2 separate regions of the Homo sapiens genome follow, and region 1 is linked to region 2. Evidence: fine-mapped expression QTL. A gene starts in region 2. The other region holds a variant in brackets. All regions are shown on one strand. Distances are between the middles of the regions. Region 1 has its middle 96 kb from the start of KCTD8. Region 2 holds the start of KCTD8 (potassium channel tetramerization domain containing 8).

What was found. PIP is the estimated chance that this variant, and not a neighbour inherited with it, causes the effect.
Region 1: its variant is the best candidate, but not a certain one, in a credible set for the expression of KCTD8 in tibial nerve (GTEx, PIP 0.82).

What each region holds. Positions count from the first base shown.
Region 1 is chr4:44,541,979-44,547,365 of GRCh38, forward strand. No RefSeq gene overlaps it. Among named protein-coding and RNA genes, the nearest start is that of KCTD8, 96 kb to the left of the region's middle. The variant G/A (reference allele first, on the strand shown) is at 2,650.
Region 2 is chr4:44,445,643-44,451,029 of GRCh38, forward strand. KCTD8 (potassium channel tetramerization domain containing 8) reads right to left here and starts at 3,167. Exons shown (of 2, transcript NM_198353.3): 1 at 1,921-3,167. The coding sequence starts at 2,881.

The DNA.
Region 1 (5,387 bases), 96 kb after region 2:
ACAATGTAATCCTATCAGTTCAGTACCTCACAAATCAAAAGAACCTAAAATCACCCCCAAACTTGAAAGGCGCACACTTTCCTGCCATCAAATGCTTAGGGTCTGTAATGTGTCTTATTTATTTTGGTTTTGTGTCATTTGAGTTTACAGATATCAATGTGAGGCTTACTGTCTTTGTCCACTGGGCTGGTACAACAAAATACCACAGACTGGATAATTTATAAATGATAGAAATTCATTTCTCACAGTTGGGAAGGCTGGGAAGTCCAAGAGCAAGGCACTGGAATTTGGCATTTGGCGAGGGCCTTCTTGTTGCCTCTCCGTAACAGGAGACCAGAAGATGGAAAAACAAAAAGGGTAAAATTCTGTAGGAAGTTTCTTCTATAAGGACCTTGATCCCATTCACAAGAGAGGAGTCCTCATGATCTAATCACCTCTTAAAGGCCCCGTCTCTTAATAACATCACATCGGCCATTCAGCATCAATACTTAGATTTTGGAGAGGACATATTCAAACCATAGCACTTACTATGTGCCGAGTAATGTTCTAAAGATTTTATAAATATTAATTTTTTCAGTCCTCATAATCTGAGTACTATTATTTCACTTATTTTGGTGGTAAAGGATGGAGAGGCACTTGCCCAAGTACACGAGGCTATTAAGTGGCTGAGCTTTGCACAATAATAGTTGTAGTCTGTAGAATCACAGCAGCCTCGAAGAACAACTGGTGAAATTCTACAGTTTAGACTGAAATTTGTGTTGTCACAGATGGAGAACTCCATACTAACAATCTATTAGCTGTAACACGGAAACCAATAAATTATCTTGACTAATACAGGGATCCACAAGTCTGAATGGTGGATTAGAGGGCAATGTAGAAATAGTTCAATGAACGAGCAGAAACTGAATCCATAGCATTATCCAAGGCGCTCTTGGCTAGGTTTTACACACACACACACACACACACACACACATCAGTTAACCAAATTAAAAAGGGAAATTTCTTGCCATCAAATAACTATAGAACTTTTTTTGAGAAGACTAATTTCTTCGCCATTAACCCATTCGTAATCTTTATGTCCAGAGTTAAAATAACCCCTTCAGGTATTGTTAGAAAGAATTTGGATCGATTGTGTAGATCTAAATTACATGTATAAATTGTCATCCTGAAAGGGAAAATAAGTAGGCCTCTCTTCTTGCCTAAAACCTATATTTAAATAACAACAACAAAATGACTAAATTTATGTTGCGTTAATAATCTGCCTCTACCTTTTCATATAAACAGTTGGTGTGAAACTTAGAGTATTTTTGTTTTAAATAAAGAACACTAATATTAACAATTTGAGCACTTAATCTGTGCCAGGCCCTTTTCTGAGAGCTTTATGCGATTACCTCATGTAATCCCCATAATGACCCTATGAAGCAGATTCTGTTATTACTCTCATTTTACAGTTAAAATAACTAAGACAAAATTTAAGTAATCAGCCTAAGGTCATATCTCGGCTAATGGGAGTGAGTGGAGCAGAGAGTTAAACCTAAAAAGTCTGACTTCAGAAATTTTGCTTCTAACTATTGATAGGGAAGATTGTCAGAATAAAATAACTACAATTGAAGGACTTAGCATCCAGAAGCCTTGTTCACATTTCTATTTTAATTTTCAGAAGTCCCTGGAAGGTCAGTGAGTATCATCTGTATTTAGGAAAGCAAAGTGAAATGTCTCTCAAATACTAAAAAACAAAAAATAAAAAAATTTATCCTATATCCTGTAAAAATTCTACCAGTAAACACAACACAATGCTGTCTGAAAATGAATGCGTACTGAAGTCATTTTATGACTATTGCCTTGTGGCTTGTGAGCCCTGCCCAAGCAAAAGATAAGGTCTTCCATGGGGTTCTAAGAGCCTAACAATAGACCAGGCTTTTGACCAACAATTCCACATTATCAATTTTATTCATTTTTAAAACTCTTAATGGAGGCATTGAGATTCTGATGATGCATTTATGTCTAGCTTGCAATTAGCTCTGAAATCTCCTGCTTACCATCAATTTGATATTTTAACTCTCTCCATACTAGTATCTTATATAAGAACCATAAACATATGATATAGCCTTGTTATGTGCCAAGCACAGACCTAAGCACTTCATGTATTTTAACTCATTGAATCCACACAACTGTATTAAATAAGTACTGTTATTATCACCATTTAAGACATAAAGATACTGTGGCACTGAGGTTAAATATCTTCAAGGTCACTTACTAGGTTAAATGGTAGAGCCAGAATCCAAGCTTGATAGTCTGGCCAAAAGACCATGTTCATAACCATTATACTGTACTATACCATGGGATGACTCAACTATTACAAAGCATCATAAGACCTACCCCAAGATATTAACTCATTCACTAAGCATTTACTGAGCACCAGTTTTTCTAGGCACCGTCAAGGTCTGGGAATACAATGATAAGTAAGGCAGAGGGACTTTTAAGAAAAAGAAAGAAGCAAATAAATGATTAATTACAATACGATGGACTAACTGCCAGCCTAGGGCATATAGAAAGGGCTGCAGGAGCATAAATGGGACTATACTTGGTAGAGAAGCCTCCTTGGAGGGATGGAAGAGAGGAGGGATATCTGAGGGGGAGAAAATAGAC[G/A]GAATCCCCAATATAGTTAACAAAGTGAATTTCAAAAAACAAACTCATTACCTTTACTTACCTCAAGGAAAAATTAATGATGCCACGTTTCGAGAATATGAATCATTTTGAGTCAGGGTCCTTGCAGGACACATAGAAGTGACAAGTAAAACCATTTAATAATGGGACTATTTACAGAGTTGTGAAGAGAGTTAAAAACACCAACTAGGGCAGGAGAAGAATTATTAACTCTAGAAGCTAGAAGTTTTTACTGTCTGTAATCTGGGGAGTTTTTACCGTCTGTAATCTGGGGTGAGATCCTGGTAATCGGCAAAGAGATGCTGTTGTCCCTGAAACCTGACAATTGCTGTAATGGTGGGAAAGGCTCTGCTGCAAAAGGAGCTGTGGCTTTAAGTAGAGAAACACAGCCACTGTCTGAACACAGACCAACACCTGGGGAAAATAAAACTCGGATTTCGTTCTCCTCCTATCCATCAAGCTCCTACTAGTGCCTCCATTGGCCAACCAGAGGGCAAGAGAGTACAGGTGATGCAGTCCACAGAAGTCAGGTTCCTGGTACCTAGAGCAGGGTATGAAGGAAAGAGACTGGATCTGGAAAAGCAGAGAGCAACCAACAGCCAGTTATTGCTCAAAAACAGTACTTGGTTATTCATCACCTCTAAAGAAAACAGGAAACAATAGCAAATGGGCAAAATGAAGACTTTTCTAGAAGAGCTACCTAATTACCAAAATCTGCAACATGAAATGGAAGTTGTAGAGATCTTGCGTAAAGGTTTTTAAATACAAAATTCATGTCACTTCTAGTCCTGATTCTCTGTAGTACTAATTACTGATTTGAAAATTTTTAAACCAAGGTGACTTATTTCCATCTACAGAACCTACTTCTCATAACCTCCATTTTAGAGAAGAGTTTTTTTTTTCATATGGCAAGCAAAGGTTATTTTTTCTACCTCTTACCATCGGTATATCTATTTCCTTCCTTCCTTTCCCACTACTGCTGCTTTGGTTCAAGCTATTATCAACCAAGGTTCCTACTGGCCCTGATAGCAGTCAACTCCAGGTCTCTGAAATGACAGGCTGCTGTCTGCCCAGAGCGTTGAATATGCTCCCAGAATACAACGTAAAATAAATTCAGATAATGGCACTAGGAATTTCACACAGAAAGATCTTTACTGATGATATTTTCCAATTTGCATGTAATTTGCAATAATTTTAACTACAAAATTACCGTTTAATTACCATTCAATCTTTTCTTTTTTTGGCTTCTTTTAGAGAGATCCATTAATTAAGGTGAGAAATTAGATGAATCTGGTTCTGCTGAATAAGGGAAATTGACTTTGATCTTTGTGTAAAAATGAGGCATTCAAAGAAATTCATTGATCAGCATTAATTAATGTTCTCTCTGACAGTATTTAGTTTCAAGTGTTTAGTAGTGCTGTCCCTTACTAAACTTTCTTTTACACTGCTCTCAGTAAAGTTTTAAATTGTGCAAAATTTCTTATTTATTCATTTTTTTCTTTGGCGAGCATGGAAAAATGGAGCCAATTGTCAAAGTTGACCCTGGGTATCAGTAAAAGAGCAAATGTTTCAAAAGTAGCAAGTATAACCTCTGTCTCTTTCTCTTCCCATGATACTGCAGAAAATAGAATTTGGAAGGTATTTATGGAAGAGGAAAGTGGAGAATGAAGAGTGGGAAACAGCAAGTGGTAACTATGAAGCTTAATTCTCAGTATTTAAAAATAACTTTTCTACTTTTAGAGTAGCATACTAAACAATTGAACCCTTTTTCTGTTACAGTCATTAACTAATGGTACAGACTATTTACTACCTTGTTGGTACTGGACTTAGCTCTGTACAAAACAATAATAAATAAGCTCAGTATTTATCTGCCCTCAGAACATTAGCATTATGAATACATATACATATAATGTGTGTGTGTATATATAGTGTGTGTATATAAAATGTGTACCCATATATTAAGTGTATATATATTTATGTCCCCATATATATGTGTATATACTTTTATGTAATATATATTTTATACACATATATACTTATATATCCTGTTTTTTTTCAGGTTAATATTAAGACACATATGGAAAACTTACACCATATGAGACACATCCATTGGCACTCTAGACCACCTACAGAATTACAGATGGGAGTCTCATGATCTTTATACTTCATCAAATAGTTCATACTCTCTGCCCAGGTCTTATCTGTGTTTTCTTAGAAGAACATAAAAATGTAATATGACTCTACCATCAAAAAATGTGTCAATAAAACTTAAACACAGTTTAAAAAATTAATGGTGAACGTTGCCAAATGTCTATGATAAATTTGTTTTACAAAATATGATCATTGTGGGAATGAAGAAATAAAAATAATTAGACGAGCTAGAACAACCTTTACAAAAAAGATAGCTAACATATTTATTGAGCACTATGTGCCAGGCATCCTACCTTTATTTGCCATTTGATACTCACAGTAAACCAATGAGATAATATCATTGTATAGTGTAATGATATGGTATAGGATATTGATTGTAATATGGTATTATGACCATGAGTATATTTAACCTTGCCAAACTTGCTAGAATTTAATTTCCCCATCTACAAGTGGGGAAAACCATCAACATTACCTGCTTCATGTGTGAAGTGCAAATAAGATTATGTATATATAATATTATATAAAAGATATATCTATCTATCTATCTATCTATCTATCTATCTATCTAT
Region 2 (5,387 bases):
CCACATCTTTCTAGAGGAATAAGAAAAACCAAAACCAAGTAAGATTTTCAAAATTTCAGAAAACTGTGCAGAACATTCATGCTTGTATCTTCTCTAACAAAAAACACTAACTACAAGAAAGGCAAAAGTTCATTTTACCTTATCTTCTGAAATGTTTGGAAATCTACATTGAAATGACTTAAATGGTTTAAAATCTAAAAAGTTGTTGACAAAGGTCACAATGATAAGAAATAAAATGGTGCTAAAATACTTAATTACTCAATATATATTTAAGAGATGTCAATTTTATACAAGCAATAAAATATCTTCCCTTGGGTGGCTTTTCTGACCATTAATCTTTTTATTGTGTAACAAGTAATACTTTGATATAATTAAGACAGTTTTTTAGCTTCCAATTCAGTGGACAGACACTTCATTTGCTTCTCTGTTGAAACCGTTGTCTCAAGAAATCCAGCATTACTTTAAAAAGTAGTCTAACTCTGAGAACCTGTGTGCTGTGGTTTGTCACCCAACTTCCAAGGTTACCAGAATATACAAACACTAAGCCAACCTTCCAGTTAAGCTTGCACCTGTGCAAGGAGAGTTCCCTTCCATTTCTCCAGTCAAAATAAAGTCCAGAAAATTGTTCAGTTCCCAATTACTGTAGTGACTAAATTACCAAAATAAATAAATTCAATTTAAGCTGGTCTATTTCCATCACAGGATTTCAAGGCTATTCTCCCTATGCTACAGGCAAGTTTTAACTTGTGTCTGGCCAAAGGAAAAACCTTTGCCAAATAATGTTCCTGCTGCCATCCCAGCTGGCTTTTCGTTTGTCCAAATCGCTCTCTAGTCGTTGTCTTTTCACTTCATAAACGCCACTGAGAATTGTGCCCACCACAGCCCCACCCCACTCCCAATCCCACTCCCAATCCCCAGGTTCAGATTATGGTATTTGGTATAGTTCTTGAACTCCACATAGCCCGCTCCGGAAGCGCACTGCAAAACGCACCCCAGATGCTTTCCCAAATCTATTCCTTCATTCTCTCATTTCAGAAAATCGCTCTATTTATTCACCCTGAGAAAGTGGACTCAACCCCCGCTTTCGCGCTGGAGAAGGAAACACAATCATTCTCTCTTTCTCTTCCCCTCCCTCCCCAACACCTTCCCTCCCTCCTCCCTTGCCCCTCCTAATCTCCAACCCTAAGAGCAGCACTCAGACATGCAAACTTTCTAATTCCTTCCACCCTCCCCTGTCCCAAACACTGGGCAATTAGACTGGAGATAACAGACGCAGGGAAATCTGGGTTTCCATCTGTCAAGGAGTCCCCTTTCCCCACACCCGCTCTCATGCCCCCGCCCCCTCGAGGGGCTCTGGGGGCACCTTTATCGCTTCTCCCCTGCCCTCTAGAAAACCACCCGTAACTGGAGGCTCCCGCGCGGCAGCTGCACCAACAGCAGGTGATCCAGGTGGTGCGAGGCGATGCCTTGTTATGGCATCCTGCCCTCTGCAGGGACACCACTGAGGGCCACATGAAATGACCCCCAGCAGTCCTGCAAAAGCAAAGGGGTGGAGGAGGGTCTATGCACCCTGCCCTGTGCCCCAGTCTCTCCCACCCTGTCCTCCGCAACCGAGGAGACCCTGGCATCTGGGAGCGGGCTGGGCCGAGAAGGCAAGATCAATAAAGTTCAGCAAGTAGACAGCTGGGAGCTGGGTGCTACTGAGTTCTAGAAAGGGGGAGTAGAGACGGAAATATCCGAATCGGTGAAATGTAAATCGTGTCTACTGCATAAGGGAATCGTGCAGGGAGAGCCGCTCTCTATAAGGAGTTAACCAGCGCCTGCCCCGGACACCCCCGCGGGGCCTCCAGCGGGGCTCAAACTGGCGGCGGCTCAGCAGGGGGCGAGGGGTGCTGGGAAACGCCGGGGCTGCGAACTTACGGAAGAAAATGTACTCGGTGTAGCTGCTCCAGATCTTGTCGTCGCGGTACTGGTTGACGAAGGCGGCGGTGCCCGAGGAGTTACACGCCACCATGTGGAAGCCGGCCTCGGACAGGCGATCAAAGGCCTGCTCCAAGTAGGTGAACTTGAGGTAGAAGCGGGACGTGTACTTCTCCGGCTGCCGGTCGGGGTCGCGGCTCTCGTTGAGCGTGTCCCCGAAGACCTCCTTGGCCAGCGCGATGCGCCCGCACACCATGATGCGCGCCACACGCCGGAATTTGGCGTCGGCCTGGTTGTCGCGCACGGTGGTGTAGGAGCCCCGGTAGCCCAGCGTGAGGAAGCCCGAGCGCTTGTCCTGCGCGCCGCCGCCGCCGCCACCACCGTGCGCTCCCGGGCCCGAGGGCACGGCGGCCGCCGCCCCGCGCAGCAGCAGCGCGTCGCTGCTACCCTGCGAGACGTTGTCCTCCAGGTCGCTCTGGCAGCCCTCGTCGTTGAGAGAGTTCTGCTTGGTGACCTTGGGCGACAGCAGCTTGACCAAGTCGGTGAGCTGGAAATACTCGGCCTCGCGCAGCAGCCGCTCCTTCTCGGGGAAGTGCTCCGGCAGCGCGAGTTGCTTGTCCCGCAGATAATCCAGCACGTACCTGAAAAGGAAGCCGTCCCGGTCGATGAAGAAGCGCGCCCGGCTGTCCCTGGGCAGCTCGCCCCGGCGCCGGGCGCCGCCACGGGGACTAGAGGGCGAGAACATGCTGGCCAAAGTACTGTCCGGGACGCTGAGCAGCGTCGAGTGCTTGGTCACATAAACCTGGCCGCCTACGTTCAGCTCCACTACTTCAGGGAAGGGCGAGGGTGCGCAGGGCCCCGGGGCGGCGGCGGCCGACGCGCCGGGCGAGCTGGACGAGGAAACCATCTCGCTAATGGGCAGGATGGTGCTGCCGCCGCTGCCCGTGTCCTTCAGAGCCATAGTCCCCCCGCCGCCGGCCCAGTGACCCGAGAGAGCTGCACTTTCTCGTTCCCGGAGCCCGCGCCCCAGCCCTCCGCGTGCTCCTGGCGCTCTGCGCCCTCGGACTGGGCGGCGCGTTCCTCCGACCGGGGCGGCCCCGCTCAGGGTTCGGGGCAGCGGCGGCGTCGGCGGCGCCCGAGCTCCATCGGAGGAGAGACGCGCGAGAGAGGAGCTCCGCCGGTGCGGCGGCGGCAATGGAGAGGCAAGAAGGAGCTGCTGCTCCTTTGGGGCGAGGGCGGGGAAGTGTGAGAGAGACTTGCGAGAGGCTCTAGGGCTGCTGCTCGGCTCTCCGTGGGGAGGGCGGGAGGAGGGGCCGAAGCAAAGAAAACTCGCCGCCCCGGCAGCTTGCAAGCGTGCCGCGAGGCCGGAGCGCCGACGGTGGCGCTAACTACTCCTGGCAGCACGGGAGGAGGCACTGACGTCAAGCCCCGGACTGGGACCCGAGCCTCAGCTGTCATTTAAAGAGATAGGCTGCAGCCGCGGCTCCCGGGCTCCGACGCTAGGGGGCGGGGCCGAGAGCCGAGCCTGCAAGAGGTGCAGCTCCCCGACCCGCGGGGACAGGCAGGCAGGGAGCTCCTAAAGCAAAAGCGAGAAAAAGGGACAGCGCTCTCATTCCTTCATTTCACTCCCTCCTTGGGTCTGTGCCACCCCCTTTCCTCCCTCCTTTCCTTCTTCTCTTCCTTCCTTCCTTGCCTCCCTCCCCAGTAAAACTAGTTTTTTGCACTTTCATTAAGGTAAGGAGTGGAGGAGCGGAGAGGGGAGAATAAGGTTTTGATTATAGCAAAGATGCCAGGCTCCTAATCTGAAATCACCACAAATGTTGGCTTGCCAGCAGTGATTGCAAAAAGATTACGTGAGGGTGGGAAGGTACATCTCTTGTAGTGGCTTTATGATACAGTTTAAGTGAAGGGCTAAATGCGCGTACCTCTCTTGGAATCAAATTTCACGACTGCGTGCACTGAATATCCTTGAATAATTTTTAAAACTTTGTAATCTGCTTTCAGTTCACAATAATAAAGGAGTGTATGTAACAACTGTTTCCTTCCGACATTTTTACAATTTTTAGTTTTAAATTAGATGCTTAATAAATGTTTATAGAGGGAGAGACGGAGCCCGAGAGGAAATTTACTCGATTTGTTCATTCTTTCTAATCCTGATCAGTCTCATTAATCTCTCCATTTCCCTTTCAGCTCCATCAAACAAGAGAAGTGGCTGATATTTTTATTAGTCTTCTAACCCCAAGAGTAAGGTCACAAATAAAAATTATATGAATTTAAGCTCACCTTAATTTCCATGTGTACATAGTACAGGTACAGTCTGCAAAATGAGCATTACTTGTGATAAAGACTGAAAATAGGAAAGCAAATGAGAAATATTTCTTCTACCCTGGGGCATACATCTGTGTTCAGAAACATAAAGAATCATTGATTTATGAAGTACAAAAGAGAAAAGGGTGTATTGTGGCACAAAGTAGTTTGCTTCAATTATCATAACAATATTACAGATGAACTTTATCCATTAGCAGTCGATATACAGATTTTAATATTTTTTAAAAAGTTAAATGCCTACTAACAACTCCTTTTCTTCAAACCACCCAAAAAAGTATCAAATTTCAGATACGGTTGTAAATTAATACATTATTTTTGGAACATTACAAATTATGTTTAAATCATTGATCCTTATAAGCTGCATCCATAGACAATGTTATACCAATTTTGAAGTTGCATTATATGAAGCAGAGAGAACCTAATGGACCAATGAAAGAACAGAATATATTTGCCAAAGGACTGAGACTTAAAACGGGGGTTTCGGTATGCATCATCATGCAATCCTTTTACTCAAAACTATTGTGTCCTGCCAAATTTATAAACTGATTGATCAAATTAACTAATTTAATTGATTTAGCCTTCATTTAAAAGTTAAAACCAAGTATTAAAATAACAGAAAAAATACACTATTTTCTGCCTCATTAGAAGAATATTCGGGATTTAAAGTAATCGTTCCTGGATAAATGAATTAATAGATGCTTTATAATCTTCATAGATGAATATATAATAATGCCTCAAACCACTACTAGTGAAGCCCATTTATCATAAGGTAAGTGTCCCTAATGATAAGTAAGGTGCAGACTGTAGAACTGTAATGAAGTGGATATATAATAAATATGCATGTGAATATGAAGTCGCTAATATCAGGTTGAAATCCATCTTTACTTTTGAATTAAATAAATTATGTCTATAAGATAAAGTGATCAAAAATTTATACTCTAAATGAATCATCTCAAAAATTCACAATGAATTGTATTGTTTGATATATTCCTTTTTAAAATGATTCCTTCAACTTGATTAAACATTTTTTCTTAATTTCTTCTCTCTTCACACTCCTATTACTCTCCTCTGTCTCCCAGTTATACCCTTCAACCAAACTCAGACTGAACAAATTGCAGATCTACAATGTTTCTATCTTT